Linked DNA regions of Homo sapiens. The protein of the gene in region 1 purifies or fractionates together with the protein of each later gene. This does not show direct contact. Each region holds a gene or a part of one and is shown on either strand. Other genes may lie near its edges.

What was found.
Region 2: the proteins of CDH7 (region 1) and EVA1A fractionate together in Homo sapiens (co-fractionation; one large-scale study listed by BioGRID). This does not show direct contact.
Region 3: the proteins of CDH7 (region 1) and DAB2IP fractionate together in Homo sapiens (co-fractionation; one large-scale study listed by BioGRID). This does not show direct contact.

The regions. Positions count from the first base shown.
Region 1 is NC_000018.10:65,749,626-65,753,811, forward strand, and holds the start of CDH7 (cadherin-7 isoform 1 preproprotein), read left to right. Parts: upstream 1-1,386; 5' UTR 1,387-1,525; exon of another isoform or gene 1,526-2,327; intron 2,328-4,186. UniProt on the Homo sapiens protein: Cadherins are calcium-dependent cell adhesion proteins. They preferentially interact with themselves in a homophilic manner in connecting cells; cadherins may thus contribute to the sorting of heterogeneous cell types.
Region 2 is NC_000002.12:75,550,873-75,554,590, reverse strand, and holds part of EVA1A (protein eva-1 homolog A), read left to right. Parts: intron 1-3,718. UniProt on the Homo sapiens protein: Acts as a regulator of programmed cell death, mediating both autophagy and apoptosis.
Region 3 is NC_000009.12:121,770,134-121,773,851, forward strand, and holds part of DAB2IP (disabled homolog 2-interacting protein), read left to right. Parts: intron 1-412; coding exon 413-591; intron 592-2,473; coding exon 2,474-3,362; intron 3,363-3,718. UniProt on the Homo sapiens protein: Functions as a scaffold protein implicated in the regulation of a large spectrum of both general and specialized signaling pathways.

The DNA.
Region 1 (4,186 bases):
AATGTTAGGTAAGCAACATAGGATGGTATCTGGAACTTAACAGGAGTCCATAATTGCTGTCAGAATTATTAGCATAGAATTCGGTTTTAAACATTGACTAAATTGAATGGGCGAGGTGGGGGAGGCATGGCGCCAGTTAAATAGCCAGGAGAGGCTGGACTGGGGACAGAAAAGTGTGCTTGACTGCACAAGAAATCAGAGATAATGGTACGGACAAGCCTAAGCCCATGTAACTGGTATCCGAAGAATTACTGCTAAGGTTAAGTAAGAATAAGTGCGTAAGAGAAAGAGGACACTTTCCATTGGTAGAGTGAGAAAAATGAAAGGAAGGTAGTTGGAAATGATCTCTTCCCCCTCCTAACCCCTATGACAGAACACCCAGTCATCAGATTAAAGCGAGCACCAGAGCAGGGGAAAACAAAGCGTGCTCAACTCCAGGGGCTGCACCGCGCTCTAAAGAAAAGACCAGATCCTCTTCCTTCCTTCTTTCCTTCCTTCCACACCTTGCAAGGGTCCTCTGTCCCGCACTGCGAGTAAATCATACACTTTGGAAGTTTAGCATTAGAGAGCCCAGCAGGGGAGAAAATTGTCTGCAAGTTAAAAAAAAAAAAAAAAAAAAAGTAGAACTAGGGCAGTCCGAGGAGATTGAAAGGGCAAAACTATCAAGCAAGAAAACTGTAAGTTCTGATTAGTTTTATGACTTTGCCTTCATGCCTCAGGAGCTCAACTGATCACGGCTTTCACGACAGGCTAAGGTGGGTGTTGGAGGGGCAGCTTGAAAATACCCTCAAAACTCTCCTCCAGCTCCGTGCTTTCAGATGCAAATGCCTCACGGAGAGATGGATGGGCTGCAGCCCCTCCTACTTTCACCCCTCTTCTTTATTTTCCTGCGAAGGAATCCATCTGTACAGATCCGCCAGGCGGGAGGTGGAGGAGGGTGCGCGAGGGTGCGCGCGTGTGTGTGTGCGCGCGTGGCGGCCGAGCGGCTCCGTCTTCGCGTTCTTTTCCAGTAGCCCCCACCGGGTCTCTGGGAGGCGCCGAAGTCTCAGTGGCTCCCTGGGCCGGCCTCCGACAGCGCTGACAGCAGGCGCCCGCCGCCCACCATCGTCGCCCTCTTCCCCTCCCTCTTCGGCCCCGGCTCCGGCGCGCTCTCTCCTCCTCTCCTGCGCGCCCTCTCGCCCTCTCTCTGGCCGCGCGCTCCCGCTGGCTCCGGACCCTGCGTCTCAGCTGCCCGGGCGAGCCGGAGGGGCCCCTCGCAGTGAGCAGACGCAGCGGGCCCCCGGCGCCCGAGGCCGGGGCAGGGTCCCCGCGCACCGCGGAGTGGGCTGTGATTGGAGGAGGAGCCCGTGCCGGGCGGGCCCGAGCGGGTGTCGAGCCGGTTCCTCCAGTCTGCCCCGCGCGCGGAGCTGCGCGCACTGGGTCCCCAAGAGCCCGCGGGCGTCCGGCAGCCGAGCGCACGTTCTTTCGGATGCACACGCCCGGGTCCCTGGCGTCTGACGCCGTGGGGAGGGCAGCGAGGCCCCAGGTGAGTGTGTCTGCCTGCGCGGGGCTGGGGAGGCGCCGCTGGGCAGATGTGCGCCCTTGCTGTGCGCCTTTGGAAGCAGGACTAATCAGTGAGCGGAGAGCGGGCGGGGATGTCCGTGTGGAGTTTCCCTTGGCGTCCCCAAGTTACTGCGTGTTGCAGTGAGATGTGGCTCTGCAAGGCAGGACAGGCTTGTGGACGGAGGCGGGGGCGTTTGGCCCGGAAAGCCGGTGTTGACAGACACCAGGTGCGACACGAGGAGTAGTAGTTGAGGGTAAGAGCAAATCCCGGCACTCTCCAGGTGCAGCGGCAAACATGGGCAGGCTGGAGCACTCTCCTCAAAGAGGACCACAAGCAGGCTCCTCCCTCAACCTCGGACTGATGGGGGCACAACTCCGCGCCGGCTGTGCCGCCGGGTTCTGCAGAGGTCTGAGGCTGGAAGGGGGTATGCGCCGCTTTGGGCAGGAGTCCTTTGAACCATTCGCTCTGGACACCTTTTACCTTTCGTGAAGGTGGAGCTCACTTCAGGGTGCTTTGCTTTTTTCCCCTGTAATTAGTATTCTGCTGATCTGGTTCATCTGCATCCTGCGTCCCCTCCGCCTGGCAGTACCTTAAGTGTGCGCTGGGAAAAGGGCGCCCTGCTTCTCTGAATGCATGGTGGACTTCTTCATGGGTGCACATGGTACACTGCTACTTGCCGGTATTCAACCTTCCAGTGTGGATTAATGAGAAAAGACCCGTTATTCTGTACCGCTTCACGTTTTAGATCGTTAACCCTACGGATTTCTTAAATGTCATAGTTCAGGTGAGTAAAGATTGGCAATGAGTTCACCCAGCACTGGGCAAATGGCAAACTATTGAGAAACCATCAAGGATTGGGTGTATCAAGGCTTTGGAGATCTGCAAATTGAACGAGGAATGTACTTATAACATCTTTTGCTTTGCAATAAATATCTTGTCTCTATTAGATCGTTTATTAAGTGAGACCTTTACGTAAGACTTGTCCTCATAATTTCTGTAGCTACTAGACAGGTGTTCAGATCATTTTTCATAGAGAAGTAGATAAACATAACTTTATACAAAAAATAAGAGAAAAATGTAAGTGACTTGTTAATATATGGCCCTTGCCAAGTGACAAGTATGTATTTTTAAAAGCAGATAACACCTCACACAAAAAATGTGTATTTTAAGAGTTTAAGAGCAGTAGCAGTCTTTTTTTCTAAAGGAAAGTTTGCATAGACACAATATCTAAATAGTTTTAAGAGAGTCTTTATAAAGGCAAATTGTTATGGGAGAAAAGAGCTAAGAAAAAAAATTAATTACATTTGAAGCGTTCAGTAACTCACCAAGAATTACTTCTTTCCTAAAGAACTAGTTAGACTTTGGTTTACCTAGGATATTTTCTTGTTCTATATGTCAAGGGGAAATGCATGAAGAATCCTTTTCTTTATTTTTAAGGCTATTTTGAACAGTATGAATTAAAATGCAAAAGAATTGAGACAGGTAGGAAGACTGGCAACTTTGTGGAAGTCTTGCTTCTGTGTTAGTGTTTAATATGGAGTGGGATAGCAGAGCAATTAGGTAACATCCAACGTCAATAGTCTTATCTGGGAAAGCTAGCCGAGTCTGTCTGAGGAAAGAAAAATAAAGAAAACAATAATCAGTAGCACAGACCATCACCCTGCTAAAAGCTATTAAGGTTTGCAGCTTTAATAAAAGGGCATTGTGCACTTACAACGTGAGATATTATTGTAATTAAGGGCTGCAAGAGGTCATTAGAATTGTGTTAATCACTTTACAGACTCACAAGTCTTCTTAAGTCTACTTTTATTGATTTAATAGCACAGAGCTTTTTCCTTTCTTATAAAAGGATAATTGTAAAGCATCTATATTACTGCAATTTACCCTTGAATTGACTCTAGTGTTTAGTGTCCAATGAAGAAGAGAGGGTGGAGAGCACGCGGAGTTGGCCACTGTTCAGCCTTCCTTGGCCTAAAAATCAAATGACTGTCTCTCCTGGGCACTAGTGTCTTTACTGGTTTCCCTGTTATTCAGCATTTTGCTTTTTTGATGGCAAAGCTGATATAAACTCCTCAGAGTGTATACTGATATAAGGAAGTGAATATATTTTTGTGTTGAGCAAATACTTTTTTGTCAGATCTTTCAGAAATAATTTATAAAATACTAAACTCACAAATTGTTCTGTGCTGTGGATATTTATTGCTGAATGGTTACAATCTTCCTGGATTTCATAAGGTTTTACATTTATTGCATTAATAGCTTGTATCACATCACAGTTCTCTCTCTCTTACACACACACAAATGTCTTTTACTTGATTGGAAGTCTTCAAAGCCTTAGCTTAAATTGGAAGTTTCAGGAACTTCTAAAATAACTAACATGCATTAGTTGATTGCAAAGGGTTTGAGATGGAAGCTTTTTCTTCCTTGGATGAAGGAATCAGATGCTACTTGGTGGGGTGATAAAGGGGAGCTGAGGACAAGGAAAGAAGACATGTGATCAGAGTCTTGTGTGTGACCATCTCCCCAGCGTCTGACAAGCAGAGCAGATCTAGCTGTAACCAGCAATACACGAGTGCCTCCTCTGGGGATTTGCTGGTTCTGCAGAAAGATACCCCTGCAAGCACTTCCCCCTTGTTTTTCTGC
Region 2 (3,718 bases), on another chromosome or scaffold:
GCCCTTTATCCCGCTCCAGATAGTCTCCAGAGAGCTGTTATCATCAAAGATACTTTTAGAAAATCTGCTTTCGAAAAAGAAGGTGAAAGAGTGGGCCGCTGTGGTTGGGATAGGAATGGCCATTTCCTCCCCGCTTTTCCCCCTTTCCTTCTCCCCAGCCTGGCATCTGAGGCTGTGCCTGGGGGCAGTGAGATGCTCTTTGTTCTGGGGTTCAAAAACTCTCTTCCTCCTCTTGCCCCCTCTTTGATCACCAAGGCAGCCTGCACTTTGCCCTCCATGGTGAGAGGAGAGGGAAATGCTGCTTAGTAGAGAAGCAACCATAAACTTGCAAGGAAAAGAAGACTTTACAAAACACCTGCTGTAATTTAAGCCTCTCCCCTTTTGCCTTGCCCCCTCCTGCCCTTGTCATTCAGATGGGGCTGGTGGTAGCTGCAGGGAGCAGACTTCAGGGGATCTTGTTTCTGCAAGGGGACTTTGATCAAAAGGGCTGCCTAAAGCTGTCTTTCTCTGGGCACCTCCACAAACACACTCATCTTGTCAAGACAAGACAGGCCATAGCAGCCCATGGGAGGAGACGGGTAGGGCCTGTTACTGGAAGAAGCATTTCTTTCCTGAGTTCCCCCATCCTGAGTGCCACTTGGCCAAGCAACCTCTGACAGTGGCATCCTTCTTTGCTGCACTGAGATGTCGCTATGAACCTGAGAGTGGGCGGAATGAGCACTGGAGGAGAGTCAGCAATGCCATTTACTTGCTATGAGACCTCGGTCCTTTAATCTCCTAGTGGGTCAGTCACACAGGGCAGGAATGGTTGGCCTGGACATTCTCCAGTGTTAGACCCTGCTGCATGTCAAAAGCAGGGTGCACTGTAGGATCTTGTGGAACTTCAGAAGACAATGACTGGACATTTAGTCTGAAAAAGACACACATGAAAGTAAAAGTGTTCCTGTGGGTGTGCTAATGTGCTCACAGAGACAGCTTGGTGGCCTTGGTGTGTCTGCTCAGCTCAAGCTGCCAACACTTATTGACACCTTCATGTGCCAGGCACAGTTCCAGGCTCTGGAAACAGGGATGAACAAGATACTCTTTGTGCCCAAGGAGCTCAGCAATCCAGTGTGGAGACAGATGAGGAAATCAGAGATAGTAATGCAATGTTTTGCTGTCCATCTCTCATTACAGTAAGTTCTCTGAAATCAGGACATATGTCTTGTTGATTCCCAAATCACCAGAGCCTACTGTAAACTGGCCTATGGCAGATGCTCAATCAATGAATGTTGTACTACCCTAAAGTACCACACTAGAGGCAATCACAGGGTGCTATGTGCACCCACAGGAGGGACACCTAAACTCAGCTTGGAGAGCAGGTGAGTCCAAGACAACATGCATCAAAGAGGCTGAGATGGAGCATCCAGGCTGATGAGAGGAGAAGTGGAGCCTAGGCAGATGGGCCGGTGAGAAGTCCAGCATGTCCAGGTGAGCAAACCAGGGCTGCTTCAAGAAGGGAAGGCAGATAGGCATGGCTGGGGACAAAGGAAGTCAGCCTGTGAAGGGGCAAGGTAATCACATCTGGATTTGTTAGAGAATTGGAATTTTACTTTGAAGATAGTGGGGAGCTACTGCAGGATTTCACACAGAGGAGAGACTGGGTCAAAGTTTTGTTCTAATACTGTTCTGGCAATAGAGTAAATATTGGAGAAGAATAAGATAGGTGGCAAAAAGACCAGTTAGCATGTTATTGCAGTTTAGGGGATGAAAAAGCCTGAGATTTGGAGTCAGATACATCTCAGCCTCCTTCCCAGCCACACTCCCTGTAACTTGGGCTGTTTAGCAAATGTCTCTGAGCCTCTGTCTTATCTGAAAACAGTGGACTCTACTTCCTCCCTTATGGATGGTATGCATGGTAGACAGGGTTACATACAATGAAGTATGGGAAATGTCTACTACAGTGGTTTATTTGTAATTGGCAAGTCATACTAGTGGCCAGTATTATTTTTAATATTGTTGTGACTTACTATCATCTAGGTGAGAAATAATGAGATTCTAATAAGACACTGGTAATTAGGGTGGAGAATTGGGCAGACTCAAGAAAGCCTTTGGCAATAAAGTTGGCATGATTTGGTGACTGATTGAACAGGGGAGTAAGGGAGGGGCAGGAGTCTAGGATGATTCTGACATTTTGGCCTGGCATCCAGTGGGAAGGATAGTGGGGCTATTCATTAGGAGAGAGAAGGGACAGGGAGGAGGGAGCAGCATTTATAGGAAGGATGATGAACTCAGTTTCAGATATGTTGAGTTTGAAATATTAAGATAGTTAGGGAGAGATGGCTAGTGGGCAGATGTTTTCTAGGTTTGACATTCCCGAGAAAAGTCTTCAAGATTTACAAGAAAGCTAACTTTTTTTTTTTTAAGAGACAGAGTCTCACTTTGTGACCACGCTGGCATGCAGCAGCACAATCATAGCTCACTGCAGTCTTGAACTTGAACCCCTGGGCTCAGGTGATCCTCCTGATTCAGCCTCCTGAGTAGCTGGGACTACAGTTATATGCCACTATGTCCAGCTAATTTGTAAAACTTTTTGTAGAGCAGGGTCTCACTATGTTGACCAGGCTGGTTTTGAACTTCTGGCCTCAAGTGATCCTCCTGCCTCAGTCCCCCAAAGTGCCAGAATTACAGGCATGAGCTACGGTGCCCGGCCCACAAACAAACTTTAACCAAAGGTAGTGAAGTCATGGCATGGATCAGTTGGTTACGGAGGGTTATGGAGTATGGGAAGAGGAATTATAATAGCTAATGTTTATTGAGTGTGTACTGTATGTTCTAAACACTTTACGTGTATTAATCCTCTCAACAACCATTGTTAGGAAGGACTACTATTGTTTTACCTATTTTACAGCTGAGTAAACCTAGGCACAGAGATGGTAAGTAATTTGCCCAAGGTCACACAGCTATAAGTCATGGACCTAGGATTTTAAGTCAGCTATCAGGATGCCAGGCATGTGCCAGATTGCTTCCGAGAGTGGCAGTACTAGGGCACAACACTGACCTCAGGGAAGGAAGGAGAGAACCCAGTGAAGTCAACAGGGAAGGGGATGTGCAGAAAGGCAGGAGGAAATGGGAGACTGGGATGCGGAAGAGGAGAGTTTCCAGGAGAGGGGGATCAACAGCTTCAAATGATATGGAAGAATGAGAGATCTGAAATGTTCACGGATTTGGAAATTCCAAAGCTATTGACGACTTGGTGAGAGGAGTCTAACAGATGAGGGGAGTCTAACAGATGAGGGGAGCTAATGAACAAATGTGAGGTGAGGAAGTGGACATACCAAACTTTAGCAATTGTTTTTAGAGGCTTGTCTATGAAAGTAACATGCAAGAAAAGACAGCAGCTAGAGGTATTAGGTAGAGACAGTGTTTTAAAGATGGAAAAGACCAGCACGTTTTTTTTGGTTTTTTTTGTTTTGTTTTGTTTTGTTTTTGAGCAGAGTCTTGCTCTGTCGCCCAGGCTGGAATGTGTGGTGCGATCTTGGCTCACTGCAACCTCTGCCTCCTGGGTTCAAGTGACTCTCCTGCCTCAGCATCCCAAGTAGCTGGGATTACAGACACACACTACTATGCCTGGCTAATTTTTTGTATTTTTAGTAAAGACAGCATTTCACCATGCTGGCCAGGCTGGTCTCGAACTCCTGACTTCGTGATCTGCCCTCCTTGGCCTCCCAAAGTGCTG
Region 3 (3,718 bases), on another chromosome or scaffold:
GTGGGTCAGGCCCCAGCCCATCCCGTGGAGTAAGTGATGTGAGAGGGGCTGTCACAGAAGCCTCTGGATGGAGAGGTGGAGGTGTGGAAATGCTGGGATTCCATGTGTGCTTTCCTCTCTGCGGAGGCACCAGGGCAGGGCAAACTGAAGGAGAGGCTTGCACTAGGTCAGCGTCTCCCACTGTGGGCCTCCTACTCCTGCCCTAGAAATGTCCGGGAGCTGGTTAAAAATGTAGATTTACCGATTCCTGGGCTCACCCCCCTCCCAGACCCAGTGGCTCTGACTGGCAGCAGGTGGGGATCTGCACTTCTGACAGGCTCCGCAGTGGTTTTGAGCCATAGTGGCTGCAGCACATACAGCCTACCCATGTGGTCCCAGGAGGTCACACCTGCCTCTTGCTGTGCCTTTACAGAGCATAGTATCCAAACTGGGACCCCTGCCTCGGATCCTGAGGGACGTCCACACAGCACTGAGCACCCCAGGTAGCGGGCAGCTCCCAGGGACCAATGACCTGGCCTCCACACCGGGCTCTGGCAGCAGCAGCATCTCAGCTGGGCTGCAGAAGATGGTGATTGAGAACGATCTTTCCGGGTAAGAGCTGCCAGCCATGTTGGGTGTGGTGGGTGCGTGTGCAGACTAGGCACAGCCCATCTGTAATCTCAGATGGGGAAAGAGGATGCCTACATAGTGTTTATAAAACAAGCCTGGCAAGACTTGAGTTGTACAGGTCCTAAGTGGTGAACCTCCATTTGGGAAAAATCAGGGAAGCCTTCCTAGAGGAGGTGATGCTATAGGTTTGTTTTGTTTTGGGAAAAGTAGCATTTCCATTGGTGGAAAAGGCATTCTAGACAGAGGGACAAGCACAAGCAAAGACATGATGTGTCAGAGAATAATTGCTGGTCCCAAATACCCCCAGCATTTCCAGATCCCCTGATATTTGTTAAAAATACACATGTTCCTGGTATTTCCTGAGCCTGAGTCAGAATCTCCAGAAGTGTTTAGTTGGGGGTGTTTTCAATAGGAATTCGGTGGCTCTGCCAGGCTTTGAGGCTGGGAACAGCAGAAAACATAAAGTGATGCTGAGACCCAGTCCTGGGGTCTGCTCTGCCTAAATAAGACACACACGGCAGAGTGGAAGGCAAAATGTTCTTGTTTAAGTCAAAATAGAGACATTTCTATCAGTTCATGTTGAAGCATTTCTGCTCTACCCCTACTCTCCCCTCTCCCGCCAGTGATCCTTCTTACCCCAGCATGTGAGGCCGCAGCTGTAGCAGCAGAGTTGGGAGTGTGGTCTCCCCCAAGGTGGTGGCAGGGCAGGCTTTTAAGCAGGGGAGGGTGCTGAGATCAAGAACCTGGGGTTAGGGGAGCCCAGGAGGGGCCAGAGATGCAGGTCCACTGAGTCTTGCATTGGGTCTGTTCAGTGAGTGTGCCAAGTGAAGACAAGCAGAGTCACATGCCAAGAGTTTGGAGTGGGGGGTGCAGTAGACAGCCCTTGAGAGGCTGAGAGGCAGCCGGGCCCGTGAGTTCTGAAAAGACTGACCTGGTGTGTGGCCTGGGCAGCCAGGCCCCCACTGCTCTCCGTCTTTCCTGGCTCATCTGCTGCTCTAGCCAGTTCTCCCAGGCCCGTGAGCACTGCAGCCCATCTCAGGGAGTGGCACTTCCTCTCCGTCTGAGGCTAAGCCAACCCATTCCCCATTCCAAGCCATATCAAGCCCCCCAAGTCCTTGCAGCCTTCAGTTCCCCCCACCCACATTCTTCTCTCCAAAGCCCCCCTGGACCCCGCCACAGTTGTGCTTTCTTCCAAGGAGCTAGCTTCTGGGGAGGGGCCAGGGAGAGGCCAGAGAAAAGCGTAGAATGAGGAGGAGGCCAGGGCAAGTGCAGCCCTCCCACCAAGTCATGCTCTCCACAGAGCCTGCTCTCATTCCTTGTTTTTGCCAGGAACTCCAGCCCCCGCCTGCCAGTCAAACAAGGGAGCGGCAGCAGGAGGCTGGGCAAGAGGAGGTTTCACCGGGCCCCCACTTCAGTTACCAGTCTGATTAGGAACAAGAGGGAAGAGGCAGAGGGAACCCAGTGACTCTGAAGTTGGGGTTCTCAATGCAGGATCCGTGGATAGCAGAGAGCCACTGAGTTGTGGCTTAGGGCTTAGCTAAGGAGGAGTTTTCCAGAGCAAGCCAGGCCCCAGTACCCATTGTCCCAAGATGCAGCTGAACAGGGAAGGGGTCTTCCAGGCAGCGCGGCCTGAAATGTGCAGTGCTGGCCCCTAAAGAAGAGGTTCTGTGCAGGAGCAGCCGCCTCAGCCTCTGGTCCCCGGATTCTCCCACTCCTGCCACCCCAGCGCATCCATCTCCCCAGCGCTGGCTCAGGCTGCCAGGCCCCGGCAGGTTGGCGGGTGCTGTCGGTTTGGACCCGCCTTGGCTGCACTCACAGTTCTTCTTTTCCCCTTCTTTCCCTGTGTGTGCTTGTCTCCCTGCAGTCTGATAGATTTCACCCGGTTACCGTCTCCAACCCCCGAAAACAAGGACTTGTTTTTTGTCACAAGGTCCTCCGGGGTCCAGCCCTCACCTGCCCGCAGCTCGAGTTACTCGGAAGCCAACGAGCCTGATCTTCAGATGGCCAACGGTGGCAAGAGCCTCTCCATGGTGGACCTCCAGGACGCCCGCACGCTGGATGGGGAGGCAGGCTCCCCGGCGGGCCCCGACGTCCTCCCCACAGATGGGCAGGCCGCTGCAGCTCAGCTGGTGGCCGGGTGGCCGGCCCGGGCAACCCCAGTGAACCTGGCAGGGCTGGCCACGGTGCGGCGGGCAGGCCAGACACCAACCACACCAGGCACCTCCGAGGGCGCGCCAGGCCGGCCCCAGCTGTTGGCACCGCTCTCCTTCCAGAACCCTGTGTACCAGATGGCGGCTGGCCTGCCGCTGTCACCCCGTGGCCTTGGCGACTCAGGCTCTGAGGGCCACAGCTCCCTGAGCTCACACAGCAACAGCGAGGAGTTGGCGGCTGCTGCCAAGCTGGGAAGTTTCAGCACTGCCGCGGAGGAGCTGGCTCGGCGGCCCGGTGAGCTGGCACGGCGACAGATGTCACTGACTGAAAAAGGCGGGCAGCCCACGGTGCCACGGCAGAACAGTGCTGGCCCCCAGAGGAGGATCGACCAGCCTCCGCCCCCACCCCCGCCGCCACCTCCTGCCCCCCGCGGCCGGACGCCCCCCAACCTGCTGAGCACCCTGCAGTACCCAAGACCCTCAAGCGGAACCCTGGCGTCGGCCTCACCTGATTGGGTGGGCCCCAGTACCCGCCTGAGGCAGCAGTCCTCTTCCTCCAAGGGGGACAGCCCAGAACTGAAGCCACGGGCAGTGCACAAGCAGGTCAGTGCTGCTAGTCAGAGGGCAGGGCTGGGCACTTGGGCCCAGCTGGGGCTGTCATACCCCATACCATGCTCCTCCTCTCGGTCATTTCACCTCCACCCTCACCCAGCTGCCATCCCATCCCACCAGCCTGCCACATGCGCCACCACCCCCTCCCCCTGGCTTCTTCCTGAATCCTGTGAACCAGGGACACTGTAGCCTTGGGGAACTCCAGGCTCCTCTGTCAGTGCCCCTAGGGGCAGGCTGGGGTCAGAGAGAAAGAGGAGGAGAGTGCATTCATCTTCGGTTCCAAGCCTGTCGAAGCGCCTACCCAGCTCTGCCCCCACACGCCCCTCCCAAAATGTTTTCACAGGCTG